Regions from separate parts of the Homo sapiens genome. Here region 1 is linked to region 2. Evidence: fine-mapped expression QTL. A gene starts in region 2. The other region holds a variant in brackets. All regions are shown on one strand. Distances are from middle to middle.

What was found.
Region 1: its variant is fine-mapped to the expression of PVR in tibial nerve (GTEx, PIP above 0.99).

What each region holds. Positions count from the first base shown.
Region 1 is chr19:44,614,027-44,629,705 of GRCh38, forward strand. It overlaps IGSF23 (immunoglobulin superfamily member 23), which reads left to right. Exons shown (of 5, transcript NM_001205280.2): 2 at 9,681-9,946; 3 at 13,394-13,547. Among named protein-coding and RNA genes, the nearest start is that of IGSF23, 8.3 kb to the left of the region's middle. RefSeq lists an enhancer at 949-1,450. The variant A/G (reference allele first, on the strand shown) is at 3,699.
Region 2 is chr19:44,633,295-44,648,353 of GRCh38, forward strand. It overlaps PVR (PVR cell adhesion molecule), which reads left to right and starts at 10,616. Exons shown (of 8, transcript NM_006505.5): 1 at 10,616-10,881; 2 at 13,929-14,276. The coding sequence starts at 10,803. IGSF23 (immunoglobulin superfamily member 23) reads left to right here. Exons shown (of 5, transcript NM_001205280.2): 4 at 2,107-2,171; 5 at 3,125-3,487. The coding sequence ends at 2,140. RefSeq lists an enhancer at 3,455-3,749 and a silencer at 10,568-10,647.

The sequences.
Region 1 (15,679 bases), 19 kb before region 2:
GACAAGGAGGAGAGTGTCTCCTTACGAGTCCAAGTCACCCCCACTCAGAGCTTTGACCCTGTCAGTTTGAGGCCCATGCAGCTCAGGCACCCAACTCATGAGAACTCTTGAAGGCCACTCCGCCACAAGAGATGACCCTATTGGCTTCTTTTAGGAAGAAGGGAAGTGAGGCGCAAAGAGGAGAACAGGTCACCTACCCAAGATCACAGGGCTGGCAAGGGGCAGGATCAGAATTTGGGACCCCAGCCCAGCCCCCTTCCACCAGAATGCCCTGTCTCACCCCTGCAATCCGCAACTTAGTAATAATACATATAAATAATAACAATCATAAAATAATAACAGCCGTAATAGAAGGTCACTGTAACTGAATAGATCTATATACCAGCCTGTTTGGGGTTTTTGTTTTTTTGTTTTGTTTTGTTTTGAGACAAGGTCTTGCTCTGTTGTCCAGGCTACAGTGCAGTGGCCCGATAATGACTCATTGCAGCTTCAACCTGCTGGGCTGAAGCTGTTCTCCTGCCTCAGCGTCCTGCGTAGCTGGGACCATAGGTATGCGCCACCAAACCCAGCTAATTTTTTATTTTTAGTAGAGATGAGGTCTTACTATGTTGCCCAGGCTAGTCTCGAACTCCTGGGCTCAAGCGATCCTCCTGCCTCGGCCTCCCCAAGTGCCAGGATTACAGGCGTGAGCCACTGCGCCCAGCCTGTCAGCCCGTTCTAAGTGCTTTCCTATAGTAACATTTACCTCTTATCACAACTCTTTGAGATCAGAGCTGTACGATCCCTATTTCACAGAAGGGGAAACTGAGGTTCAGAGAGGTCATGTGCCCTCTCCAGGTCACACACTTGGAAGTGGCAGACTGAAGATTTGAAGCCAGATGGGCTGGCTTCCCAGACCACACTTTCCAGAGACCACACACATCTGCCTCTCAGATAGTGAATGAATTGCTTCCTTATCCAGGTCTTAAAAGTTCACTTCTGAGTTGGGCGCGGTGACTCACACCTGTAATCCCAGCACTTTGGGAGGCCGAGGCAGGCGGATCACGAGGTCAGGAGATCGAGACCATCCTGGCTAACACGGTGAAACCCCGTCTCTACTAAAAATACAAAAAATTAGCCAGGCCTGGTGGCGGGCGCCTGTAGTCCCAGCTACTCAGAAGGCTGAGGCAGGAGAATGGCGTGAACCCGGGAGGCGGAGCTTGCAGTGAGCCAAGATCGTGCCACTGCACTCCAGCCTGGGCGACAGAGCACGACTCCGTCTCAAAAATAAATAAATAAAGTTCAGTTCTGAGCCGGGTGCAGTGGCTCACGGGTGCAGTGGCTGGGATTACAAAGTGCTGTAATCCCAGCACTTTGGGAGGCCAAGGCGGGCGGATCATCTGAGGTCAGGAATTCAAGACCAGCCTGACCAACATGGAGAAACCCCGTCTCTACTAAAAACAGAAAATTAGCTGGGCGTGGTGGTGCATGCCTGTAATCCCAGCTACTTGGGAGGCTGAGGCAGGAGAATTGCTTGAACCCAGGAGGCGGAGGTTGCGGTTAGCTGAGATGGTGCCATTGCACTCCAGCCTGAGCAACAAGAGCGAAACTCCATCTTTAAAAAAAAAAAAAAAAAGTTCAGTTCCATGTAATTTTAAAACCTCAAAGTCCACCTAGTTCAAAGCTTTGCTCTGTCCCCAGCTCAGGCAGGTGTCACACTGGAAGGAGGAAAGGGACGTGGTGGGCCTCTTCCCTATTTTGTCAGAGCTGTTGTCTGAGGCCTCTCTCAGGGCGGAGGGCAGAGGGGAGGAAGGAAAGAAAAGGAGATTGGAAAGTTTCTCCTAGGCTGCTGTAGTTTTGTGATGGAAACACGGCATGCTGTGTGTTGCTGGATCTTCCTGGGGGCGGGAGGGTGGGGTACTTTGGAAATTGGCTGTGCCACTGGATAAAACAGCAACCAGTTTTTAGAAAGTGGTTTACAACATGTTTGCAAAGTGAGCTGGGGGAGCTTACAAAACATTGTCCAAAGGAAAACAAAGCCACAGTGCAACGAACTTCAACTCTGTAAATACAAAATGTTCTCTTGATAACAGCAGGTACCTCGAGAGTGTGACCAGGACAAGCGTAGGGGTGGAGGTCAAAGGGATATTTGGCTTTATATGGGTCTACTTTTTTTTCCTAAGGAGAAGCTCTTGAGTGATTAAAAATTAATTTTAAAAATTATGAAAAACCTTCAAAGAAAATATACTCCCCAAAGTGGTTATCTGAGTATTAGGCTTAAGGATTTGTTTTACTGCTTTTTACTTTACTTTCCAAATTATTCTATAATGAGGAGCAGACGTTGTTTTTTGTGATGCCTTGTAAGAATTGCTGAACATAATTCTACTTTTTGTTTAAAAGAAATAGAAACAGCCAGGCGTGGTGGCTCACACCTGTAATCCCAGCACTTTGGGAGGCCCAGGCAGGCGGATCACAAGGTCAGGAGATTGAGACCATCCTGGCCGACATGGTGAAACCCTGTCTCTACTAAAATACAAAAAAATTAGCTGGGCGTGGTGGCGCACGCCTGTAGTCCCAACTACTCGGGAGGCTGAGGCAGGGGAATCACTTGAACCCGGGAGGTGGAGCTTGCAGTGAGCCGAGATTGCACCACTGCACTCCAGCCTGGCGACAGAGCGAGACTCCATCTCAAAAAAAAAAAAAAAAGAAGAAGGAAATAGAAACAATAACAAGCATAAAGCTTGAAAAAAAAAAACAGTAAAAGTTTCCAAAACATAGTGTTTATTTCTAGGAGTCTAAGTTTTCTGCTATAAAAATGGAAATAAATAAATATATATATATGAGTATATATGAGTAATACCATATATGTAGAGAGAGAGAGGGAGAGAGAGAAAAAGAGAGAGAGAGAGAGGGAGAAAGGTCTTGCTCTGTCACCCAGGCTGCAGTGCAGTGGCAGGATCATAGCTCACTGAAACCTCAAACTCCTGGACTTGAGGAATCTTCCCACCTCAGCCTCCTGAGTAGCTGGGACTACAGGCGCGTGCCACCATGCCCAGCGAATTTTTTATTTTTGTAGAGACAGGGCCTCACTCAGTTGCCCAGGCTAGTCTTGAACTTCTGGCTCAAGTAATCTTCCAGCCTTGCCCCACCCCTCCCCCCGCCCCCGCAAAGTGCAGGATTACAGGTATGAGCCAACACACCGGCCTACTCTTATATTAAAAAAAAAAAAAAAATGCCTATCAGGAGTGAAAGGATTAGGTGTGGTGCCCAAGAGACGCAGGGATTCTTTTTGGGGTGACGAAAATGTCCTTAAATTGCTTGAGGTGATGGTTGCCCAATTCTGTGAGTATACTAAAAGCTCTTGAATTGTACGCTTTAAATGAGTAAATTATTGGCTAAGAAAGTAGATTTTATGTGTTCTCACCACAAAAAAAATAAGTACATGAGGTAATGCATATGTTAATTAGCTCAATTTAGCCATTCCACAATGTATATGTATTTTAAAACATCACATTGTACACCATAAATATACACAATTTGTATTTGTTAATTTTAAAAAGAAAAAATAGTGGCAAGGTTATAACTTAATCAGTGTCCAGAACAAACATTATGTCACCCTTTAAAAATGTACCATTCACATTGATTTATAACCCTTTATTATTTCTAAATAAGGTGGTGAGAAAATGTTGGGTGAGGGGTTGGGTAGGAGTAAATGGAGC[A/G]AAGCAGATCCCAGAACCAGAAGACATTAGTAGTATATGGAGAGAGACACTCAACAGGAGCTGTGGGCTGGAACAGAAGGACCCAGCCAACTGTAGGACTAATCCCTTCAAGCTTACTCCCCCGCTGCCCTCTCCTCTTCTGCCAACGTGCCCACTGACAGAAACCAACCAGCAGCAAAAGGTAAGGGGACCCCAACAACACAGCTCAGAGAAGTCAGCCTTTCAGGCAGCAGAGTGGAGCAGAGAAGGGTAGAAAACCAATTTTTGCAACATCCAGTATAATATACGTGCGTGCTTCAAGGGGTCAAGGAGAGGAATCAATGATTCCTCCTCCTTCCCTGCTCTTCCAAGGCGCCCTGCTCACATCCTGCACCTGCTCTGCCTTCTCAGAGCTGCCCTTCTCGGCACAGCTGAACACCTTGACCGAAGGAGCCAGTGTCCATCTTCCTGTCCCCGGAAGGCTTGAAGGCATTCTCACCACGTCTTGGTTCTGAGGGTATGACGCCCAGCCAGCAGCCATGATATTCTCCCCGAAGGGCCTCCCAGGACCTGCTCACACTGGCCGGGAGATGCTGGGAACCCAAGGCAGCCTGGTCATTAGAAAATGACGGCTCAGGACTCGGGCAGCTACACCGTCGTGCTGGAAACCAGCAGGGGACACAGGAGTGTGACGGAGCAGATCCATGTCAAGAGTGAGTGGGGCCCCGCAGTGGGAGGGGCTGACTTCTCAGAAAGCAGACCCACTGGACCTCAGAAGAGCCCACCAGGACACTTTGCATGCTGGTTATCCATTGCTCCCCAATAAACCACCCCAAAACTTAAAACATCAATCACTTATCTAGCTGGACAGTTGTTGTGTTCAGCTGTTGGGGTGTCTGGGTGTTGGCTGGTCCAGAATGACCTCCTTCATGTGCCTGGCCATGGACCAGCTGGTGGCTGGAGTGATGGGGATGAGTGGGCCACATAGCCTCCCAACCTCCAGCAGGCTATCCCAGGCTTGTTCACTCAGCAATGGAAGAGGAACAAGAGGTAAAGCTGCAAAACTCCTTCAGGCCCAGGCTCAAAACTGACCACCATCACTTCTGCCACCTTCTATTGGTCAAAGCAAGTCACATGGCCAGCCCAGCTTCAACAGGAAGGAAAAAGGCCCCACCTCTTAAGGAGAGGAGTTGCAATGTGTTGTGGCTATTTTTTGTCGTTGTGTTAGATTGTTCTTCCATTGCTATAAAGACATACCTGAGACTGGGTTATTTATTTAAAAAAAAAAAAAAAAGAAGAAGACGTTTGATTGGCTCATGGTTCCACAGGTGGAAGTGTAATGCCAGCATCTGCTCAGCTTCTAAGGAGCCCTCAGGGAGCTTTTAATCATAGCGAAGGCAAAGGAGGAGCAGGTGTCTCCCGTGAGAACAGGAGCAAGAGAAAGAGAGAGTCAGAGAGGAAGTGCCACATTTTACAACAATCAGATCTCATGAGAACTCACTACCATGAGGACAGCGTCAAGCCATAAGGGATCCGCCCCTGTGGCCCAAACACCTTTACTGAGGCCCCACCACCAACACTGGGGATCGCATTTCAACATGAGATTTTGGCAGGGATAAATATCCACATTATAACAGCCAAGACTTGCAACAGACATTCATGAGATACGCATTCATCATCACTTGGGAAAGGTAGAGAAGGTCTGGTAGCAGCCTTCAACCTCATCTATATTTTTATCACCTGGACTCAAACTTTCATATCTGAATTAGGAAAACAAAGCCCTGAGAGTAACCAGACCCATCCTCCTTTTAGAAGATAGTCCAGAGACTGTCCTAGTCGGCTCGGGCAAAATACTCTAGGCTTAATCAACAGAAACTTATTCCCTCACAGTTCTGAAGGATGGATTGCAAGATGAAGCTGCTGGCAGGTTTCATCTCCTCTGAGGCCTCTCTTTTTTGACTTGCGGAAGGGTGCCTTCTCATTCTGTCCTTGCATGGTCTTTCTTCTGTGTGTGCACATCCCTGGTGTCTCTCTGTGTGTCCAAACTTCCTCTTCTTATAAGGGCACCAGTCAGGTTGGATTAGGACCCACCCTAACAACTTCATTCTAACTTAATCACCTCGTTAAAGACCTTATCTCCAAATACGGTCACATTCTGAGGTACTGGGGGTTAGGGTTTCAACATATATGTTTGGTGGGGGACTCAATTCAGTTCATAACAGAGATCAACTTAGTTAGGGTTCAGATTCTGATGCTCTAACAAAGACTCAAAAAGTTCCAGTGTCGGCCAGGCGCAGTGGCTCACGCCTGTAATCCCAGCATTTTGGGAGGCCAAGGCGGGCAGATCACGAGTTCAGGAGTTCAAGACCAGCCTGACCAACATGGTGAAACCCCGTATTTATTAAAAATACAAAAATTAGCCGGGCATAGTGGCAGGCGCCTGTAATCCTAGCTATTCAGGAGACTGAGGAAGTAGAATCGCTTGAACCTGGGAGTCGGAGGTTGCAATGAGCCAAGACCATGCCACTGCACACTTAGAACCCCACTTCTGCACAGAGGGGTTTTTACTCCCCTCCCAGAGAATTTATGGACCGCTGAGGTTCATCCATCTGTATTTCTGTGATTTGATGACTAATTTTGTGTGTGTGTGTGTGTGTGTGTGTGTGTGTGTGTGTGTGTGTGAGATGGAGCCTCGCTCTGTCGCCCAGGCTGGAGTGAAGTGGTGCGATCTCGGCTCACTACAACCTCCACCACCCGGGTTCAAGCGAGTCTCCTGCCTCAGCCTCCTGAGTAGCTGGGATCACAGGCGCCCGCCACCACGCCCGGCTAATTTTTATATTTTTAGTAGAGACAGGGTTTCACCATGTTGGCCAGGCTGGTCTCAAATTCCTGACCTCAGGTTATCCACCTGCCTTGGCCTCCCAAAGTGCTGGGATTACAGGCGTGAGCCACCGGGCCCGGCCTGAAGGCTAATTCTTCTAAAGGCCTGGCTCCACACCTTCGCCTATGCCATTCTCAGTCCGAAGGGCCCTTTCTAAAGAGAGAGGTTGCAGGAACTCACGCTCGGTGGTGCAGGCTGTGTGGCCAGAACTCCCTGGATCAAATCCCTCTGGCATCTGTTATGCCCCTGAGTCCCTGCAAAAAAGTAACTTTCTGTTTTGCACTTCAGTTTCCCCATCTGTGCAATGAGGTCATAGTGGAACCTACCTCATAGGGTGACTGTGAGGAGTAAGTGAGTTAATCAGTGCTAAATGCCTACAACAATGCCTGACAAAGAGCAAGTAAATGTTAGCCCTGGCCAGGTGCTATGGCTCACACCTGTAATCCCAGCAGTTTGGGAGGCCGAGGTGAGAGGATTGCTTGAGCTCAGAAGTTCGAGACCAGCCTGGGCAACATGATGAGACGCCCATCTCAACAAAGAATTTAAAAATTAGCCAAGCCTGGTGATGTGCGCCCATAGTCCCAGCTACTCAGGAGGCTGAGATGGAAGGATCCCTTGAGCCCGGGAGGTTGAGGCTGCAGTGAGCTGTAACCTTGCCACTGCACTCCAGCCTGGGGGACACAGCAAGACCCTGTCTCAAAAAAAAAAAAAAAAAAATAGCCCTGTTTGTTTCAAAGGACTTGACTTCTTTGAGCCTTCCTTTTCTCATCAAAATGGGAATAAGGCCGGCACGGTGGCTTACACCTTTAACCCCAGCACTTTGGGAGGACAAGGTGGGTGGATCACTTGAGCCCGGGAGTTCAAGACCAGCCTGGGCAACATGGTGAGACCCCATCTCTACAAAAAATAGCTGGATGTAGTGGCGCACGCCTGTAATCCCAACTACTCTGGAGGAGACTTTGAGCCCGGGAGGTGGAGGTTGCAGTAAGCTATGATTGCACCACTACACTCCAGCCTGAGTGACAGAACAAGACCCTGTCTCAAAAAAAAAAAGGAATAATAATAATTACTTCATAGGATTGTTGTGAGGATTAAATGAATAAATCCAGTGGCTTTCATGAGAAATGCTTTTCACATCATGTCCAGTATATCCCACAACTAACCAAAAGGCAAGTGTAGTAACAGTTATTACTATGAGTAATGCTCTCTGATGTTTTCTATAATATTTCTTTTCATGTTTTGAATGTTGATCACAGTCTACTAATGATTTAGACACCTGGGCATGGGTCTCGCATGCAGTATAACAAGCCATGGATTAACACGTGTGCTTGGCTCACAGTAAGAGCCCAATCCATGGCCGGGTATGGTGGTTCATGCTTGTAATCCCAGCACTTTGGGAGGCCGAGGCGGGTGGATCACCTGAGGTCAGGAGTTTGAGACCAGCCTGGCCAACATGGTGAAACCCCATCTCCACTAAAAATACTAAAATTAGCCGGATGTGGTGGCGGGTGCCTATAATCCAGCTATAGAGAGGCAGAGGCAGGAGAATTGCTTGAACCCAGGGGGCAGAGGTTGCAGTGAGCCAAGCTCCAGCCTGGATGAAAAAGCAAAACTCCGTTTCAAGAAAAAAAAAAAAAAAAGAGCCCAATCCAGGTGGCTGTTATATTGCCTCTTGTTTGTACACCTAGTGGGCTCTTTCTCCTCCTTCAAGGCTTAACTCAGACACCTCCTCCAGGAAGCCTTTCATGAGGTCTCTGGTTGTGCTAAAGTTCTTTTCACTTATAACATTGCATTGAAATCAGAAATCAGCTCTAAGTGGAAGTTCCCAGCACAGTCTGGGAGTTCAAATCCCAGATGTGTCCCTACTAGACCACGAAGCCTGGCCCTAATGAGCCCCAAACCTCAGAGCCTTTCACCTGAAAAATGCAGACAAGAAGTGGGGACCTCTTGGGTCACCTCCTCGCTGGGCTGTTTCCACTCCTCCAAACTTAAAGTCAAGTTCTCACATGATAGCCAGAGTGAGCCTGTTCAAACCTAAGCCAGCTCACGTCCCTCCTCTGGGCAGTCCTCCCATGGGTCCTACTGCACTCAGAGTCAAAATCAGAGTCCTCACCCTGGCCCAGGAAACCCCAGCATGATCTGCTCCCATTATCTCTCTGACTTCTTCTCCCAGCCCTCTCTCCCTTTCCCTCCTCTCTATGCCCACCTTGGCTCACACCCATCTCAGGGCCTTTTACTTGGTGTTCCCTCTGCCTGGAACATTTTTTTCTTAGGAATCCACATGGCTTATTCCTCTGCTTCTTCAGGACTCTGCTCAAACATAACCTCCCCAAAGAGGTCCTCCTTGACCCACCTTACCTGAAACGGGTTTACCCCACCCCCAGTCCAACCCCACAGCCCTGTGCAGTTTTCCTCACAGCCCTTACCACCACTATATATACTTGTCAGTTTGTTGACCCTCTCCTCACTCAATCGTAAGTTTCATGAGGGCAGCAACAGCGTCTGTTTAATCACTGCTGAGCCCCCGAGTCCTAGAGCCTTAGAGTCCTAGATTTGGTTCACCCAGATCCAGAGGCGAGGATTCAAGGACAGATAGTCTGTTTGGGAGGTGCAAGGAACTCGAGAGTGGGGAAGTTAGGCAGAGAAGGCAGGAAATAATAAAAGCTGTGTTCCCAAGCTGGTTACCATGGGCAACTGGAGCACAGTCCCATTGGGGAACTCAGGCCCTGGTGTGGAATGACTCTGCAGAGTTATCCCACATAGCAGAGAGGGAGCTGGGGAATTTATATACCAACGTGTCCTGGCATTGTGGAGGGCTGCTCCCTGATGTGCTCATTCCCCAGCACTTCCAGCCTGCTGCCTCCATGGGCAGAGTAGGCTTTGGCCACCAGTGAAAGTCCTCAGGCAACGGGATGCAGGTGCTGGCCGTTGGAAGTGGGAAGGGCAAGGGGTTGGACTGGGGGCACTGGGCACAGACCAGGCTCTTCAAACACATTCATGGGTGAATTAATGAATGAATGAACACATGAAAGAATGGATGTCTCTATGGTGGGCAGAAGAAATGCCCAGCTTTTCTGAGTGGACTCCACTCTTGTGGCCTTGTTCCCTGTTTGCACAGACAGCCTCCAACTAATGCCACTGAAGACATTCCCAGCTGCTATCCGGGGAGTCATCCAGAGTGAGCTCAACTATTCTGTGATCCTGCAGTGGGTGGTGACAATGGACCCTGAGCCTGTGCTGAGCTGGACCTTCAGTGGGGTGCCCTGTGGGATGGGAGAGAAGCTGTTCATCCGACGGTTGTCCTGTGAGCAGCTGGGCACCTACATGTGCATAGCCACAAACAGCAAGAAACAGCTGGTCTCTGAGCCTGTAACCATCTCGCTGCCAAGTGAGTCCCCCATTCCACCCCACCCCACCCCACCCAAGAGCCCTGCACCCTCTCCAGCCTGTGGCAGCCTCTATGATTCCATTAAGCCACCTACTATGAGCAGTCCCCTGTGAGACCCTTTATAGGCAAAATGTCATTCCAATGTTCCATCCACCTGGCGGACTGTGGATTATTAGGCCACTTTCTTCTTCTTTCTTCTTTCCTCTTCTTCTTCTTTTCTTTCTTCTTCTTTTTCTTTCTTCTCCTTCTTTTCCTCCTCCTCCTCCTCCTTCTTCTTCCTTCTTCTTCTCCTTCTCCTTCTTCTACTTCTTCTTCTTCTTTTTTTTTTTTTTGATAGAGTCTTGCTCGGTCACCCAGGCTGGAGTACAGTGCTGTGATCTCAACTCACTGCAACCTCTGCCTCCCAGGTTCAAGTGATTCTCATGCCTCAGCCTCCTGAGTAGCTGGGATTACAGGCATGCACCACCACATCTGGCCTATTTTTGTATTTTTAGGAGAGACGGGGTTTCACTGTGTTGTCCAGGCTGGTCTCGAACTCCTGGGCTCGAGTGATCCACCCACCTTGGCCTCCCAAACTACTGGGATTACAGACATGAGCCACCTCGCCCAGCCAATTAGGCCATTTTCAGATGACAGGCTGAGGCTCAAAGAGGTTAACTATGATGAAAGCCCAGCTTAGGATCTGGACCAGGCTACCTGGGTCCTTGGCTCCAACCATTTGCTTGTTACATGAACATGGGAAGCCTCTTTGCCTCTCTGAGTCTCAGCACATACCTACAAAAAATGCAGATCAAAATCTAAGGAGTGGGCCAGGTGCAGTGGCTCACACCTGTAACCCCAGCACTTTGGGAGGCTGAGGCAGGAGGATCACTTGAGCCCAGGAGTTAGAGACCAACCTGGACAACATAGTGAGACCCTGTCTCTACCAAAAAAAAAAAAAAAAAAAAAAACTAAAAATTTAATCAGGCATGGTAATGCCACCTGTAGTCCCAGCTGCAATGGGAGGATCACTTGAGCCCAGGAGTTTAAGGCTACAGTGAGCTGTAATCGCACCACTGCACACCAGCCTGAGTGACAGAGGATGACTGTCTCAAAAAAAAAATCACCATTGTCATCATCTAAGGAGTGGTTCAAAGCAATGGCTTTGGAATTTGAATCCCTGGCTGTGTGACTCTGAGCCAGTGCCTTGACTTCTCTGTGCCTCAGTTTCCTCATCTATAACACTGGGAAGATAATAGTGCCTACCCCAGTGTGTAGTTGTGAGCATTCAATGAGATAAGCCGGTGAATAGCTTAAAACAATAATGTCTAGCACTATCGAACACTAATGAGTGCTCAATAACCGTGAGCCAATAACACTGTTGCAATTAGCATTGTCATTATTAATTGTAGCTATTACCATATACAGTCGGTATATGGAGCCCTAGGTGGCAATCAAAATGACAGCAAGTTGTTGAGATCAGAGAAGTGGTTTGGGACCTGGTCAAAACTCAGTTCAGTCCCTGTTCCCGTGCCTTCCTGGCTGGGTAACTTAGCGCAAGTGACTTCCCCTCTCTGAGCCCCAGTTTCCTCATGTGTATAATGGAGGTAATCCTATATACCTCTTCAGGGTTGTTATAAGGAACGAAAACAAGGGGTGACTGAGTTTGGCAGAACAACTGTCAGGCAGCAGGTGCCTTGAATAGCAGCTGTTATGGTGAATATTGTTTTTAGTGTGTTATTCATGGAGGGACACATGGTGATATGGTTTGGCTGTGTCCCCACCCAAATCTCATCCTGAATTGTAGCTCTCATAATCCCCATGTGTCATGAGAGGGACCCGGTAGGAGGTAACTGAATCATGGGGTCAAGTTTTTCCCATGCTGTTCTCGTGATAGTCAATAAGTCTCACGAGTTCTGATGGTTTTACAAAAGGCAGTTCCCCTGCACACATTCTCTTGCCTGCCGCCATGTAAGACATGCCTTGCTCCTCCTTCACCTTCTGCCATGATTGTGAGGCCTCCCCAGCCATGTGGAACTGGGAGTCCATTAAACCTCCTTTTTTTTAATAAAGTACCCAGTCTCAGGTATTTCTTCATAGCAGTATGAAAATGGACTACCATGGCTTGGAGTGAACTAGAGGTATGCAGAGGAACTGGCCAGGAGAGAAGAGAGGGAGGGTATTTGGGGTAGGAAAGAATGCATGAGTCAAGGTTCAGAGCTGGGACATGGAAATGGAATGCGTGATGGGAATCTCAGCTTGGCTGGGTCCCAGAGAACCACCTCACCTCCCTGGCCAGGGTCCAGTGGGAGCTTCAGGGCTGATGCACTGGGGGAAAAAATGTAAATCTTATATCACCTAGTGACCCTGATATTCAGTGAGAAGGACAATACTTCCAAGACCTCCTTTGCTCATTCATCAACTGCCCAGGAAATGTTTATGAGCACTTGCTGTGTGGCCAGCCCACACAGCTGGGAACACTCTGGTGACCAAGACAGCTGCAGCCCTGCCTTCACAAGACTTACAGTCCAGTGTCCACAGACAGTGATCACCAGAGTGGGCAGGGCTGGGATGGGGGAGCCCAGAGAGCTATGAGACTCAGCCTAGGAGTTAAGGAGGGCTTCCTGGAAGAAGGGACACCTGAGCTGAGAATTATGCTTAGCTGGCCAGGTACAGTGGCTCATTCCTGTAATCTCAGCACTTTGGGAGGTTGAGGCGGGTGGGTCACTTGAGGCTAGGAGTTTGAGACCACGCTGGCCAACATGGTGAAGTAGATGGTGAAGAAGATGGTGAAACCCCATCTCTACTAAAAATACAAAATTTAGCTGGGAATGGTGGCATGTGCCTGTAATCCCAGCTACCAGGGAGGCTGAGACACAAGAATTACTGGAACCCAGGAGGTGGAGGTTGTAGTGAGCTAAGATTGTGCCACTGCACTCCAGCCTGGTGACAGAGGGAGACTCTGTCTCAAAAAAAAAAAAAAAAGGAATTATGCAAGCCAAGAGAGAGAGATGGCATTCCAGAGAGACAGTGCAGCATGGACAGGCCTGGAGGCAAGAGAGAAAGAAAGGGATGAGCTTGGAAAATTGAGTGGAGTCCAGGGTTGCATGGCTATAAAGGCAGGGCAATGAGAGAGATGAGGCTGGCCAGGTGGCAGGGCCTCGAAGGCTAAGGTGAGAAACTGACTTCTGCCCCAGGGTGCTGGGAAGCCACAGCAGGGTTCTGAGCAGGGGAGGAACAGGGTCAGGTGTGAGCTTTAGAAAGATCCTCCTGGCTTCCATGTGGTAGGAAGGTGGATGGGTGCTGGACTAGGGCAGGAGAGCAGGGAGGAGAGGGGGCCAGAGACCTGGAGGATGGAAGAGAAGGATGGATTGAAGAGACACTTGGGAGGGGGAATGGCAGGAGGGAGGGGTGCACAGGGAGGGCGGGCAGATGGCTCCTCCAATCTCACCCCTCCTTGGTCCCCAGAACCCATCATGCAGCCCACAGAAGCAGAGCCCATGGAGCCAGACCCCACTCTGTCCCTGTCAGGAGGCTCTGCCATCGGGCTCCTTGCGGCTGGGATCCTGGGAGCCGGGGCACTGATTGCAGGCATGTGTTTCATCATCATCCAGAGCCTAAGGTACCTCTATCCCTCACCCCCGTCCACTGGGCAACATCCACTCAGCCCCCATGGGGCACAGAGCTGGCTCAACAAGGAAACAGAGATGAAACCAACACCCCCATCAGGGAGGGTGATAGCGACTCCTGAGGAGCCCATCTGACTCACTGGTTTCCAAAATGGGATCACAGCAACAAAGAGATAGAAGAGGACACTAGAGCTGGGCTGTCTGGCTTCAAGTCCCAGCTCTGTAACTTACTAGCAGTGAGGCTGTGGGCAAGCCACTCCCCTTCTCTGTGCCTCAGTTTGCCCATCTGCAAAATGGGGATGATAATAATAGCATCTGACTCTCTGGGTTGTTGGGTTGGGTTGTTGTGAGTGAATTTTTCTTTTTCTTTTTTTTTTTTTTTGAGATGGAGTCTTGTTCTGTTGCCCAGGCCGGAGTGCAGTGGTGCGATCTCGGCTCACTGCAACCTCTGCTTGCCAGGTTCAAGCAGTTCTCCTGCCTCAGCCTCCTGAGTAGCTGGGATTACAGGTGCATACCACCACGCCTGGCTAATTTTTGTATATTTAGCAGAGACAGGGTTTCGCCATGTTGGTCAGGCTGATCTCAAACTCCTGACCTCATGATCTGCCTACCTCAGCTTCCCAAAGTTTTGGGATTACAGGCATGAGCCACTGCACCCGTCCAGTGAGTGAATATTTCTAAGAAACTTAAAGCAGTGCCTGGAATGTGGTAAGTACTATGTTCGTCCTCTCTACACATATCTGCAGTGACCGCTCTGTGCCAGGCACTGAGGATACCGAGGGAAGAAACAGCAGAAAGACCCTGCCCTCATGGAACTTGCATCCTGGTCGGGGACACCATCAAGAAACACAATGAATGAGTGAAATATAGATAGTATATTGGATGGGCCAGGTGTAGTGGCTCACACCTGTAATCCCAGCACTTTGGGAGGCCGAGGTGGGTAGATCACTCGAGCCCAGGAGTTTGAAACCAGCCTGAGCAACATGACAAGACATCTTGTCATCTCTCTCAAAATATAAAAATTAGCCAGGCATGGTGGCATGCACTTATAGTCCCAGCTACTCAGGAGGCTGAGATGGGAGGATCACCTGAGCCCAAGGAAGTCTAGACTGCAGTGAGCTAGGATCATGCCACTGCACTCCACACTGGACACAGAGTGAGACCCTGAGTCAAAAAAGTAATAATAATAAATCTTTTAAAAAAGATAGTATGTTGGATGAGCGCTAAGGAGAGGAGTGAGGCTGGGAAGCAGGACAAAGATTGTGGAGTGGGGTGGCATTTAACGAGTCAGGGAAGGCCTCCCTGGGACAGTGACATTTGAACAAAGGGAGGGAGTGGGGAGCCACGTGAGGGTCTGAAGGAATGGCATATCCAGCAGAGGGAACAGCAAGTGCAAAGGCCCTGAGGCAGGATTGCCTGGCATGTTCAGGAAATAGTGAGGAGCCCAGGGTGGCCAGAGTGGTGTGAAGAATGGGCAGAGAAGTAACATGTGGGTCAGAGAGGGAGTAGGGAGGCAGGGGAAGGCAGCTAGACCCTTGCATAAGGCCTTGTAGGCTCTCTGAGCACTTGGCTTTTGCTCTGAGTGAGATGGAAGCCATGGAGGGTCTAGTGCAAGGGAAGGATGGCATCTGACTTATATTTGATCCTATATGTTGGCTAGTACTACAACGCTATTAATATCTTACCATCAGCAAGGCATGGTGGCCCACATCTGTAATCCTAGCACTTTGGAAGGCCAAGGCAGGAGGATCACTTGAGCCTAGGAGTTTGAGACCGGCCTGGGCAACATAGTGAGACCCCGTCTCTACCAAAACTAAAGTTTTTTTTTTTTAATTAGCTGAGTATGGTAGCACGTACCTATAGTCCCACCACTTGGGAAGCTGAGGTGGGAGGATTGCTTGAGCCCAGGAATTTGAGGCTGCAGCGAGCGATGATCGTGCCACCACACTCCAGCCTGCTTGACAGAGCAAGACCCTATTTCTAAAAATTAAAAAAATAATGTTTTTAAAAAACTTGATCTTACCATGTATTGAGCACCTATTATATGCTTTCTTTTTTTTTTTTTTTTTTTTGAGACGGGGTCTCACTCCATTGCCAGGCTGGAGTGCAGTGGTGCAATCTCGGC
Region 2 (15,059 bases):
TTAACAATGGCTGCCATCAAAAATGATATTCTAATCTTTGGCGGGAACTTTGTCTTTCCGCTTGAAGCGGTTCTTTCAAACCTTGCAAATTTTTTTCTAGTCTCATGCTAGGGACATGCCCCATTTCATGCATCATATGTTGATTTTGAAGGATATATAATTGTTCTGGAGTTAGAACTTGTGCTCCCCATTGTTGTAATAAATCTTTCCCCCACAAAGTTATAGATACAGAAGTTATAATTGGTTGAATAGTCCCAAGTTGTCCATCTGGCCCTTCAAAATGCAAAATATAGCTACTTTGATATACTTCAGGGGCTTTACCAACTCCAACTATGTTAAATTGAGTGGGTTGAATTGGCCACGTGGACGACCAGTGCTGTAGAGAAATGATTGAAATGTCCGCTCCTGTATCTGCCAAGCCTTTAAATTTCTTTCCCTGAATAGTTATTTCACAGGTGGAATGTTTATCAGTAATTTGATTTACCCAATAAGCTGCTTTGCCTTGTTTCTTTGTGCTTCCAAATCCTCCTGTTCATTTAATTTCACTTTTCCCCATTCCCACATACGGCACAATCAGGAGCTGTGCTGTGCGCTCTCCTGGCTCTGCTTTCCAGGGAACAGAAGTAGATGTAACAATTTGAATTTCCTCATTGTAATCTGAATCAATGACTCCTGTATGTGTTTGTACCCCTTTTAAACTTAAACTAGACCTTCCTAAAAGTAATCCTATTGTCCCCGCTAACAAGGGTCCACAGACTCCTGTTGGGACCTTTTACGGGGGTTCCCCAGGCAGAAGGCTCACAGCTTTTGTGCAGCATAAATCTACTGCGGCACTACCGGCTGTGGCGGGGGACAGACATTGTACGGGTGTGAGGGAATGGCCTGAGCTGGAAATGCCCCAGTTTGGAATGGGGCCCAGGACAGGCCCCTCATGGCATTTCCTGAAATCAGGTTCCCTTCTTTATCAAACTTAGAGTGACACTGATTAGCCCAGTGTTTTCCTTTTTTACATGTTGGACATATTTCAGACTCAGCAGTTTTCTTTTTTCCCCTATCTGGCAGCTGACTTGCTGATTATTTCTACATTCTTTTTTAGTATGAATAGCTTGTTTAAATTCTTTGAGTAATTTACAAGGAAAAGGCTCAAATGTAGCTATAATATTTCCCTGTTGATCTGGGGGGTGTATTCTAACAGGGAACTGCCAAGCCTCTAAATCACCTTCTCTTCTAGCTTGCTGGATTCCTGCCTGAATAGAACTGACAGCAGTCGCTCCAGGCGCTGCTCGAACAGTCACTGGGGCAACTACTTTTCGCCCAGCGTCCTCCAGAAAAGAAAGAACTGGAGGGTCAGGCCACTATTTATGGCCAGTTTTGGGGCCAGTTTATGGCCAGATTTTGGGGGGCATGTTCCCAACAGAATCTCTTGAACCTGGGAGGCGGAAGTTGCAGTAAGCCAAAATAGCGCCACTGTACTCCAGCCTGGGCAACAGAACCAGACTGTCTCCAAAAAAAAGAAAAAAGAAAAAAAAAAAAAAACCCAGGGATGTGATTATACTTCCCTCCAAAGACAGGAGTGAGGATTAAGTAAAATGGTGGGAGTCATGAGCTGTGAACAGTGCCTGGAATGTGATGAGCCTTCAATAAACCTCAGCCATGTGATGATGATGATTGTATTAGTTTGCTCCAGCTGCTGTAACAAAAATGCTACAGACCGGGGGGGCTTAAACAACAAAAATTTATTTTCTCACAGTCTGGATGCTGGAAGTCCAAGATCAAGGTGGCAGCCAGTTTGATGTCCCATAGTGCCCCTCTCCATGGCTTGCAGAAGGCCACCTTCTCACTGTGTCCTCACGTGACCTTTTCTCTATGCTCATCCCTGGGGTCTCTTCCTCTTCTTGTAAGGATACCAGTCTTATTGGATCAGGACCCCACTCTTATGATCTCATTTAACCTTACTGTGTCTGAAGAATCTATCTCCAAATATAGTCACATTGGAGGGTTAGGACTACATATTAATTTGGGGAACGGATAATAATTCAGTCGATGATTCTTATTCTCTCTCTCTCTCTCTCTCTCTCTCTGTCTCTCTCTCTCTCTCCACTGCAGGACTGACAGGCAGAGAATAGGAATATGCAGCTGAAATGTGGGCAACTCTCCTGTCAGCTGAAGAGGTAATACCAGGAAGGGTGTGAAGGAAATCCTAGGTTTGGGAACAGAAAGAAGTTCTTGGGCAGAGACTCCATATGTGATTTCCTCCCTCCTGGTTCCCTGGTCATTTGTCTGTGAGATGTTCCCCTCCTGTGGAGAGCTCCAGGAGCTGCTTTTCTCTTCTTTTGCCAACTGCCAGCACCCCATCTGCCCAGCTCATCAAATTCCTGGAAGCTGCCTAAACAAGCAGTCTATATTTCATAAACCTCTTGGGCTCCATGCAAAAGAAACTCACTGACGTAGCTCAGGAAAAAATAAAATGAACAGTTTAATATAAGGACCTATGAAATTTTTCAGCAATCCATAGGTGTGAGTCAGCATTTGCTTTGTAACAAACTGCCTCCCCAAAATTCACTGGCTTGAAACAACAGCCATTTATTTAGCTTGCAATTTCATGGGTCATCCATTTGGGCTGGGCTCAGCTGGGTAGTTCTGGTCTCTGCCAGGCTCGCTCCTGCATCTGGGGTCAGTTGACAGATTGCCCAGGGGCTGTCTGGACTAGGATAGCCTCATAGCTGGGACAACTGGCCTCTCCTTCATGTTGTCTCTCATCCTCCAGCAGGGTGACCCAAGCTTGTTCACATGGCAGAGGCAGGATTCCAAGAGTAACAGCAGAAACTTCAAGGCCCCTTAAGTCTCAAGCTCAAAATGGACATGCCATCACTTCTGCCACAGAAAGGACTTCATTGGCCAAAGTTACATGACTGGCCAAATTCAAGGGATGGGGAAGTTGACTCCACCTCTTGCTAAGAAGGGAAAAATCTGTGGCCATTTTTGCAATCTACGAAGAAATGTGGAAGTACACACAGCTCTCTCTGCCAGCCTCCCCCACACACACACTTCACCCCCACCCCAAGCCCTTACAATTCCTTTCCTCCTGCATGTGGAATTTACAGTTCTCTGTCTCTCTCTGCAGATGGGTGCTTTGTACCTCTCTATCCACGTGGAAAAAAAAACCCATCCCATAGCTTCCAAGTCTACAACATCTCTGTTCAAGGGAACAACCCAACGTAACCAGACTCCCTTTGCCCTGTTTCTGAAACACCTGAAGAAAACATCTGATGGGTTGACTCGGTGCCATCCTTGGTCCCATCGCCGTGACACGTTGTGCAAGCAAAGCATCAGAGGCTCATCCCTGTCTGTGGGAGCTCAGTGCTCAGAAAACAGGGGGGAGGTTTTACCTTGGAAATTGGCCAGACCCCAAAATATGTCTTTTACACATGCTGCTTTTTTTTTCTCTTTTTCAAAAAGAACCAAAAAATAAATTAAAACACCACCACTTCTGAATGGTTTCTCATGAAGCCTCTCTTCCTGAGAGTGGGAGAGGCATGTTTGCAAATAAGATCAACCTTTGAGCTTTGCACTGTTCAAGTTTAATACCTCTCCATAGGAGGATCCTGACAGATAGCAGGCACAGGGCACACAAGTATGGCTGAAACTCCTCTGGGGGATATATCTCACATTTGAGGAAAATTCGGTGCTTCTGTGACCAACACAGAACCACCTAACATGGCATTCTGCTTAGCAATAATAGTAGCAGAACTGAGTCCAAGTCTTGTCTGTTGAGGGCTCTCCATGTGCCAGCCACTGACTATTTACCTTACATGATTAATGTGTCATAGCAGGCCAGGCGCAGTGGCTCACACCTGTAATCCCACCACTTTGGGAGGCCAAGGCAGGTGGCTCACCTGAGGTCAGGAGTTCAAGACCAGCCTGGCCAACATAGTGAAACCCCATCTCTACTAAAAATACAAAAATTGGCCGGATGTGGGGGCACATGCCTATAATCCCAGCTACCGGGGAGGCTCAGGCAGGAGAACCACTTGAACCCAGGAGGCAGAGGTTTCAGTGAGCCGAGATCATGGCCACTGTGCTCCAGCCTGGGTGAGGGAGTGACAGTATCTCAAAAATAAAATAAAATAAGTAAGAGATGTTAGCCAGGCACGGTGACTCACGCCTGTAATCCCAGCATTTTGGGAGGCCAAGGCGGGCAGATCACCTGAGGTCAGGAATTCAAGACCAGCATGGCAACATGGTGAAACCCTGTCCCTTGTTATCACACGAATGGGGATGTGGCTTGTGTGCTGCCTAATCTTGCCTAGAACTAGGTGTACCTGCGTTCTTTTGCTTATGGCTTTACCCTTGGTTACCCTAATTCCCTATTCTCCTGCCTCAAGAGGTGACCACAGCAGCCCTGGGCCTGCCCTCCTAGGGCTTATAGTACAGTGAGGGAGACAGACCTGTTCCCAGTGATGACCCAGAGTCATCACTCTCCTCTGGGAGGCCAGGGGGGAGTCTTAATGGAGACTGGAGGATCCAGGAGGGCTTCCTGGTGAGGGAGGGGTCAGCTGTACTAGAGAACAACATTAAGATCATTAATAACAAGAGCAGCCAGATGGCCGGGCACGGTGGCTCACGCCTGTAATCCCAGCACTTTGGGAGGTGAGGCAGGCAGATCACGAGGTCAGGAGATCAAGACCATCCTGGCTAATACAGTGAAACCCTGTCTCTACTAAAAATACAAAAAATTAGCTGGCGTGGTGGCAGGAGCCTGTAGTCCCAGCTACTCGGGAGGCTGAGGCAGAAGAATGGCGTGAACCCGGGAGGTGGAGCTTGCAGTGAGCCAAGATCGTTACCACTGCACTGCAGCCTGGGCAACAGAGCGAGACTCCGTCTCAAAAAAAAAAATAAATAAATAAAAGAGCAGCCAGGTCTTCTGGTTGGAGTTGGTGTTTAAGAAAAATAAAATTTAAAAATTAAAATTTTTTTGGCCGGGCACAGTGGCTCACAGCTGTAATCCTAGCACTTTGGGAGGCCGAGGCAGATGGATTGACTGAGCTGAGCTCAGGAGTTCAAGACCAGCCTGGCCAACATGGCGAAACCTTGTCTGCTAAAAATGCAAAAAAAATTAGCCAGGCGTGGTGGTGCGGGCCTGTAATCCCAGCTACTTGGGAGGCTGAAGCATGAGAATCGCTTGAACCCGGGAGGCAGAGGTTGCAGTGAACCAAGATTGTGCCACTGTACTTCAGCCTGGGCAGCAGAGCAAGACTCTGCCAAAAATAAAAAAATTTTAAAAATTGTTTAAAGAGCAGCCACGTCTCCATAGTGGTAATTGTCAGGCATCGCACCAAAGAGCTTTAATGCGTTCTTCTCAAACAGTCCTCCCACTTCAGCCTGCCAAAGTGCTGAGATTTCAGGTTTGAGCCACTGTGCCATGCTATGCCCATTTTTCAGATAAAGAATCATAAGCCCCAGGAGACATCAATAATAATTGCTGCCATTTGTTGAGCAGTTAAATAAATAACTTTTTAGACCATATATTTCTTTTTTTTTTTTTTTTTTTTTTGAGACAGAGTCTCACTCTGTTGCCCAGACTGGAATGCAGTGGCATGACGTTGACTCACTGTAACCTCCACCTCAAGTGATTCAGCCTCCCAAGTAGCTGGGATTACAGGTGTGCACGACTACCACCCAGCTAATTTTTGTGTTTTTAGTACAGATGGGGTTTCACCATGTTGGCCAGGCTGGTCTTGAACTCCTGACCTCAAAAGTGTGGGGGAAAGAAAGAGAGATCAGACTGTTACTGTGTCTATGTAGAAAAAGGAAGACATAAGAAACTCCATTTTGATCTGTACTAAGAAAAATTCTTCTGCCTTGAGATGCTGTTAATCTGTAACCCTAGCCCCAACCCTGTGCTCGCAGAAACGTGTGCTGTATTGACTCAAGGTTTAATGGATTTAGGGCTGTGCAGGATGTGCTTTGGTAAAAATGTGTTTGCAGGCAGTATGCTTGGTAAAAGTCATTGCCATTCTCCAGTCTCAAGTAACCAGGGACACCATACACTGCGGAAGGCAGCAGGGACCTCTGCCCAAGAAAACCTGGGTATTGTCCAAGATTTCCCCCACTGAGACAGCCTGAGAGATGGCCTCGTGGGAAGGGAAAGACCTGACCGTCCCCCAGCCCGACACCCATAAAAGGTCTGTGCTGAGGAGGATTAGTGAAAGAGGAAGGCCTCTCTGCAGTTGAGATAAGAGGAGGGCATCTGTCTGCTGCTCGTCCCTGGGAATGGAATATCTCGGTGTAAAACCCGATCGTACATTCTATTTACTGAGATAGGAGAAAACTGCCTTATGGCTGGAGGTGAGACACACTGGCAGCAATACTGCTCTTTACTGCACTGAGATATTTGTGTAAAGTCAAACATAAATCTGGCCTACGTGCACATCCAGGCACAGCTCCTTTCCTTAAATTTATCTATGACACCGAGTCCTTTGCTCACGTTTTCCTGCTGACCCTCTCCCCACCATTACCCTATAGTCCTGCCACATCCCCCTCACCGAGATAGTAGGGATAGTGATCAATAAATACTGAGGGAACTCAGAGACCAGTGCCGGTGCAGGTCCTCACTTGCTGAGCACCGGTCCCCTGGGCCCACTTTTCTTCCTCTATACTTTGTCTCTGTGTCTTATTTCTTTTCTCAGTCTCTCGTCTCCACCTTGTGAGAAATACTCAGAGGTGTGGAGGGGCAGGCCCCCTTCAAAATGATCCACCCACCTCAGCCTCCCAAAGTGCTGGGATTACAGGCATGAGCCACCATGCCCAGCCACATATAACTTATTTCTAAATAACTTATTTAACTAACACCACATGATTTTATGACCCCCTATTTTATGGATGAGAAAAAAGAGGCAAGAGAAGCGATACCAGTTGCTTAGGATTCCCAGCTACCAATTAGTGGAAGCAGAATTTGAACCAAGGGAGTCTCTGGAGCCCTCGTTCCCAATCTCCTTTTCTTCCTCTCCATGTCTTTCTTTCTCCCCCTGCTCCCAGGCCTCCTACATCACACCCTTCTGGACAAAGCTTCACATCTGACATTTTCTTTTTTGGGGTGGACAGAGTCTTACTCTGTCACCGAGGCTGGAGGGCCGTGGCGCAATCATGGCTCATGGCAGCCTCAAACTCCTGGGCTTGAGGGATCCTCCAGCCTCAGCCTCCCAAGTAGCTGGGACTATGGGCATGTGCCACCACACCTGGCTAATTTTTTAATTTTTTGTAGAAATACAGGGGGTGGGGGCATATCTGAAAATTTTAAACCTTCCCTGACTGCCGTGAGCATTTCTGGGTAGAAGCCACTCCACGACCTTACTTTGCTGGCATGAGTGCTGGACAGCAATTTGGCAACATCCTCTAGACCACAAATGTGCATGGCCTTTGGCCCAGCAAATCAGCTTCTGGGAATAAATATGACAGATACTGTTACATACATGGGAAATGCCATGGACATGATGACCCAGGGAAGCACAGTTTGCAAGTACAAAAGGGCTGGAAACACCCAAAAAGCCCATCCCCTGAAGACAGTTTCAAAAATGACGGTGCATTCATGTAATGGAATAGTACACATTTGTGAATGAATGAATGAGGTAGCTCAATATATCTGCCTATGGGAAAATCACCAAGATATGTTGCTAAGTGAAAAACAGAAAGATACAGAATAATGCTACCATTTTATTTTTTAATGGGAGAGGGAAGAATAAGGAAATGGATTCATATTTGCTTAATTACACAAGCTTCCTGATGATCCTTTTGGATCCAGAAGTTTGAAAACCACAGCATCAAGAGGATGCCCATTGGGCATGGTGGCTCACGCCTGTAATCCCAGCACTTTGGGAGGCTGAGGAGGGTGGATCGCCTAAGTTCAGGAGTTCGAGACCAGCCTGGCCAACATGGTGAAACCCCATCTCTACTAAAAACACAAAAAAATTAGCTGGGTATGGTGGTGCAGGCCTGTAATTCCAGCTACTTGGGAGGCTGAGGCGCAAGAATCACTTAAGCCTGGGAGGCGGAGGCTGCCGTGAGCCGAGATCACGCCATTGCACTCCAGCTTGGGAGACAGAGCAAGACTGTCTCAAAACAAACAAACACACACAAAAAATAAGATGCCCATTGGAGATCTCCATTCACTATTTTATCAGATGATATTTCAGCACTTGAGTGAAGAAAATGTCTACAACTGGTCCAAACACTCAAGGAATTTAGACTCTTGACAGAGAAACACACAGAAGCAAGCAGATATGCCCCGAACCAAACTTGCTTTTTCTTCTAAGCCTGCTTCTTCGGAGCAGCCTCTGACCCTCCAGGGCCCTGAGAGGAGTCCCTGGAGCCACAGGAGCTTGGGAGCCCAGAGAAGTGGGGGAATCCCAGATGGTGACAGCATCATCCAGAGGAGGAACATAACGATGGCCACAGATTCCCAATTTGGAAATAACTCAGCAAAACAACACTGACAGAAAATTCAGAGATTTCCAAGAGACTAGCCTCCCTGTTTCCATTTAGAAATTCACCTACATACATCCAGGGTGAGAGACCCCAAGCATCAGATGTGTCATACACAAGCATCAGATCCAAGTTAGAGAGGGCACCCGGGGACAGAAACCTCCAAGCCAGCCAAAAGCCAAAGGAAGGATTTTACAGAAAGATACAGGAATGTGGGGCCAGGCACAGTGGCTCATGCCTGCAATCCTAGCACTTTGGGAGGCCGAGGTGGGAGGATCGCTTGCGGCCAGGAATTCAAGGCCAGCCTGAGCAACATAGCGAGATCCTATCTCTACAACAAATTTAAAAACTAGCTGGGTGTGATCACATATGCCTGTGGTCCCAACTACCCAGGAGGCTGAGGCAGGAGTTGAGCCCAGGAGGTGGAGGCTGCAATGAGCAATGATGGCGCCACTTCACTCCAGCCTCAGTGAAATAGTGAGACCCTGTCTAAAAATAATAATAAAAATAAAAAACATATAAAGATGTCAGAGCACAGGGACCAGAGCTGTTAGTCGGCCTCATGGAGACCCTGGCCAGGACAGCCACCTCTGGGGACCAGGAAGTCTCTCAGTTTCTGTCTCTGAGGGTTTGGCTCTCTGAGTCTCTCTGTCACCTCTCATTTCTCTCTCATCTCCCTCTGTCTATGCTGTGTCTCTATCTCTTTCAATCTCTCTGTCTCTGTCTCCCAGCCCTTATCTCTGAGTGTGTCTGTTTCTCTCTCATTTCTCTCTCTCTCTCTCTCTCTTTCTCTCTCTCTCTTTCTCTCTCTCTCTTTCTCTCTCCCCCCTCCCTCCTCCCCTCTCCCTACTGCAGGCTGGTCCATAACCCTTATCTTCCCCAGACCTGATGGAGTTCTGGTATTAATCTGTTTATGGTCTGTTTCCCTCCACTAGAACACGGTCTTCATTAAAGGCAGAGATTTTTGTCTGTCTTATTTTCTGCTGTATACCCAGTGCCTGGGATACTGGCTGGATCAATAAATATATGCTGAATGAAGAATGAATGAATGACCATTCTCATGAACATTATTATTTGATGCCAACTGTAAAGCAACAATAATAATAATTGTCACTGCCACTGCTGCTATTGTTGGTATATCAGCTTTTTATTTAGTACAAACTATATCCCCGAAATTGAGCTAGGCAGTTTCTTGTTTAAGTTTTACAGACCACGCTGTGAGGTAAGTACTGTTAGTATGCCCTTTTTTCTTTCTTTTTGAGACAGAGTCTCACTCTGTCGCCCAGGCTGGAGTGCAGAGGCCCGATCTTGGCTCACTGCAACCTCTGCCTCCCGGGTACAAGTGATTTTCCTGTCTTAGCCTCCCCAGTAGCTGGGATTACAGGCATGTGCCACCATGCCGGCTAATTTTTGTATTTTTAGTAAAGATGGGTTTTTGCCATGTTGGCCAGGCTGGTCTTGAACTCCTGGACCTCTGGTGATCCTCCTGCCTCGGCCTCCCAAAGTGCTGGGATTACAGGCGTCAGCCACTGCGCTTGCTCCCCCAGCCCCCAAACTTTTTTTTTTTTTTTTGAGACAGGTCTGGCTCTGCCACCCAAGCTGTAGTGTAGTGGCGCAATGGTAGCTCACTGAAGCCTCTAACTCCTGGGTTCACACAGTCCTCCTGCCTCAGCCTCCCAAAATGCTGGAATTCAGGCCTGAGCCACCGCGCCCTACTATGCCCATTTTTCAGATAAAGAATCTGAGGGCCCTCGAGGAGAAACCACTTGCCCAACATGAGCCCTGGTCTTGTCTGACCCCAAAGCCCATGGGAAGTTTAGGCTGCGTGGAAGGACAGCCTGGTGGGCTCAGGATCTGTCCCATCACGAGTTGGAACCTCAGCTCTGCCACTCGGCAACCGCGAGCCGTTAGTAAGTTGCTGAATCTCTCCGTGTGCCTCCGTTTCCTCACCTGGAATGTGGGCGACCTCACACAGGAAGCCGCCTCTTCTAGTGGGCACCGACGGAGCGAGCGCGCGTCTGCAGCGGGACTGAGCGCCGGGAGAGACCTGCGCAGGCGCAGGCGCGCGGGGAGGGCCAGCCTGGGTGGCCCACCCCGCGCCTGGCGGGACTGGCCGCCAACTCCCCTCCGCTCCAGTCACTTGTCTGGAGCTTGAAGAAGTGGGTATTCCCCTTCCCACCCCAGGCACTGGAGGAGCGGCCCCCCGGGGATTCCAGGACCTGAGCTCCGGGAGCTGGACTCGCAGCGACCGCGGCAGAGCGAGCGGGCGCCGGGAAGCGAGGAGACGCCCGCGGGAGGCCCAGCTGCTCGGAGCAACTGGCATGGCCCGAGCCATGGCCGCCGCGTGGCCGCTGCTGCTGGTGGCGCTACTGGTGCTGTCCTGGCCACCCCCAGGAACCGGTGAGTGACCCCCGCGCAGTCCGGTGGCCCCTGTCTGGCTCCCAGCTCCGCATCCAGGCCGGGTACTCGCCCCCTTGGGTTCCCGAAGATGACGGCCCCGCCCGGCGCCACCCACCCCCCATCTCTGCCCCGGGGTTGGAAGGAACACGGTGCGAGGGTGCGAGGGCAGGACCCTCCTCTTGGCCACCCGGAGAGCGGTCGGAGTTGGGTACAGAAATTCCTCGAAATTGGCAGCAACACGGGTCGGGCACAAGACCCTCCTCTGGGCCCCTCGGAAAGGGGATGGAGTTGGGTGAGGAAATTTCCCAAAAAGGCAAGTGAATCCCGGAAAATCAGCAGATGGTGACGCATGCCGGATTACCTTACCCAGGTTCCTGCTCAGCATACCCAGGCCATAACCCAGCAGCGTGCTGGCAGGCTGGGTCTGGACGGAGGGGATGGTTGATGTTGGGGAGGAGGACAGTGGGTGACACTTGACACCATTACCCCTCTGACCCCCAATGTCTGACTCCAGGGGCCTGGCCATTCATTCATTCTTTCATTCTTTTTTTTTTTTTTTTGAGACAGTCTCACTCCATCACCCAGGCTGGAGTGCAGTGTCCTGCTCTCGGCTCACTGCAGCCTCCTCCTCCCGAGTTCAAGCGATTCTCCTGCTTCAGCCTCCCGAGTAGCTCGGATTACAGACATGTGCCACTATGCCTGGCTAATATTTTTGTATTTTTAGTAGATACAGGATTTCACCATGTTGGCCAGGCTGGTCTCAAACTCCTGATAAATATATATATTATATATTATTATTATATATTACATATTATAGTAATATATAATAAAAATATATAATATATATTATAGTAATATATAATATATAATAAAATATATAATATATATTATAGTAATATATAATATATAATAAAATATATAATATATATTATAGTAATATATAATATATTATAATATATTATATATATTATTATAATATATAATATGTATATTATATATTATATATATTATTATAATATATAATATGTATATTATATATTATATATATTATTATAATATATAATATGTATTATGTATTATATAATTGATAATATATAATAATATATTTCTTAATAAATATATATTAAATATATTATATATTTATAACATATATTATTTATATAATAAATAATATATATTTTATTATACATTTAAAGAGTAAATAGATAACATATTTTATTATTTATTTATATGTTTTGTGTATATATATATATATATATATATATATATAGTGCGTGTGTGCGTGTATGTGTGTGTGTGTATGAGAGAGACAAGGTCTTGCTTTGTTGCCCAGGCTGGAGTGCAGTGGTACAATCCCGGCTCATTGCAAACTCGACTTCCCAGGCTCAAGCGATCCTCTCACTGTGGCTTCTGGAGTAGCTGGGATTATAGGTGCTCACCTGGCTAATTTTTTTTGTATTTTTGGTAGAGACAGGGTTTCGCTATGCTGCCCAGGCTGGTTGCAGCCAAGCACAGTGGCTCATGCCTGTAATCCCAACACTTTGGGAGGCTGTGGTGGGAGGATCACTTGAGCTTAGGAATTCAAAACCAGCCTGGGCAATATGGCAAGACCCCATCTCTACAAAAATAATTAACTAAATAAAAATTTAAAAATAAAAAAGAATGCATAGGACCATGTTTATTAGTGTCAATAAGCGCTGTCACATTTTGAGGACCTACTATGTGCTAGGGCCCTTAGCAGAAAGATTTTTATATAGGACCTGGGGGATTAGAGGTCAGTCTCTGACCGCCCAAGTTCAAATCCCACCTCTGCCACTAAACCTCTGTATGACTTGGAGGACACTATACTCTGTGTCAGTTTCCCTGTCTGTAAAATGATGTTAACAGTAGTGCTTGCCTCAGGGGGGCTATTTGAGGATTAAATGCCAAGATATATGTGAAGCACCCAGAATAGCCCCTGATCTGTGTCAGCACCCTGTGAGTGTCCACTGTTCTAAGTCTCATTTTACAAACTAGGAAAAAGAATCAGAGAGGTTAAGTAACCGGCCTGAAGCTCCACAGCAGAAAACTGAAGGGACCCAAAACTCCTGGGCTATAATTGCCTTCCTCTCGTGCCTCAATCCCCCACATTCTTCCAACCAGGACCCACCCAGAGTAATAATGCAGTGTTTCATGGATTTGAAGACCCAAGATTTCTCCCCGTTTTCTACATTGGGGTTATTCTAACCCCTAATGGCAAGTTGTGCTATAAATGACAACAGTCATGGTATGTGAAACCTACGACACTGGTGCGATGAAAAAGTTCTGGGCCAGGTGCGGTGGCTCATACCTGTAATCCCAGCACTTTGGGAGGCCGTAGTGGGAGGATCACTTGAGGTCAGGAGTTCAAGACCAGCCTGGCCAACATGGTGAAACCCCATCTCTGCTAAAAACAAAAATACAAAAAATTAGCCAGGTGTGGTGGTGGGAGCCTGTCATCCCAGCTACGCGGAAAGCTGAGGCAGGAGAACCGCTTGAACCCCAGAGGCAGAGCTTGCAGTGAGCAGAGATCGCGCCACTGCACTCCCCCTGGGCGACAGAGAGAGACTCCGTCTCAAAAAAAAAAGAGAAGAAAAGAAAAAGTTCTGGCGCTATATAGTAGTAACGGTTGCACAATATCGTGAAATGTACATAGTGCCACTGAACTGTATGCTTTAAATGACTTAAATGGTAAATTTAGTTTTTTAACCACAATATTTACCACAATTTTTTAAATCAGTGATGTTGAGATTCAGGGAAATACGGTAATAATAGAAGAAATACGGTAATAAATAGCCAAAGTGAAGGAGCACGGCCAAGTTGCAGACCATCCCAGACGCCCTTACCCTCCTCGCCTGCCATGGCCCCAACTAGTGCCCCAGTTCCCCCTCCCCCCACACCCCACGGTCCACCGGGGATCCAGGGCCCCAGCGTGCAAGTGCACGCCCAGGTGCCCGGGCTCCTGGAGCCCCTCCCTATCTAGTCCAAGAACGCCCCGGGTCTGACACCTTCTCTTCGGTTCTCCGCAGGGGACGTCGTCGTGCAGGCGCCCACCCAGGTGCCCGGCTTCTTGGGCGACTCCGTGACGCTGCCCTGCTACCTACAGGTGCCCAACATGGAGGTGACGCATGTGTCACAGCTGACTTGGGCGCGGCATGGTGAATCTGGCAGCATGGCCGTCTTCCACCAAACGCAGGGCCCCAGCTATTCGGAGTCCAAACGGCTGGAATTCGTGGCAGCCAGACTGGGCGCGGAGCTGCGGAATGCCTCGCTGAGGATGTTCGGGTTGCGCGTAGAGGATGAAGGCAACTACACCTGCCTGTTCGTCACGTTCCCGCAGGGCAGCAGGAGCGTGGATATCTGGCTCCGAGTGCTTGGTGAGCAGGGGGTTTTGGGGAGGCTGAATGAAAGGCAGAGACTTGGTGGGAGGATCAGGGAAGTTGGCAAAGAGCGGGGAGGCCTGGGAGGGAGGGAGATTCCCTCCACAGCAGATCCCCTGGGGACAAAAGGAGGGGGCAGCGCAATGATGTGGGGTGGGGTGGGGGGAGGTGAGTGGGGGGAGGGGCTGCAGGGCAGGAAGAAAGCAGAGATCTCAGGGAGTAAGGACCCCCAAGCCTGGGATCAGAAAGCCCTGAGGGAGGAGGAGGGGTATATTGGAAAGGGAGCTGGGAGGGGACTGGGAAGGAAGGGAGGAGGCCTGGGTGGCCTCTTCTGGGTCCCTCCTTTCCTCATCTGTAAAAGGGTTGGTGACAACAGCATCACCCTTGGAAAGCTGTCCTGAGTGTCATCACTGCCTAGGAAAGAGTCTGTCTGCCCCCTTGGACTGTGTACCCATGAGGGCAGAACCGGGGCTATTTTGATCACTGCTGGGCCCCAGCACTTTCCACCAAACAATATTTATTGAGCACTTATTATGTGCCATTCTAAGAGCTTTACCTGCATATTCTAATTGCCTGTGATTCCATCATTATCACCTGTTGACAGACAAGGAAACTGAGGCACAGACTTGCCCAAGACCAAAGCTGCAGCCTTAGGGCAGCGGCGCTTCACCGCTGGCCCATGTGAGCCCCTTAGAGCTGTCGGTTACTGTTACTTTATCTGGTGAAGAAGGAGAAAGTTGAAACAGACAGACAGGAAAGCAAGGATCCTGATACCCAAAA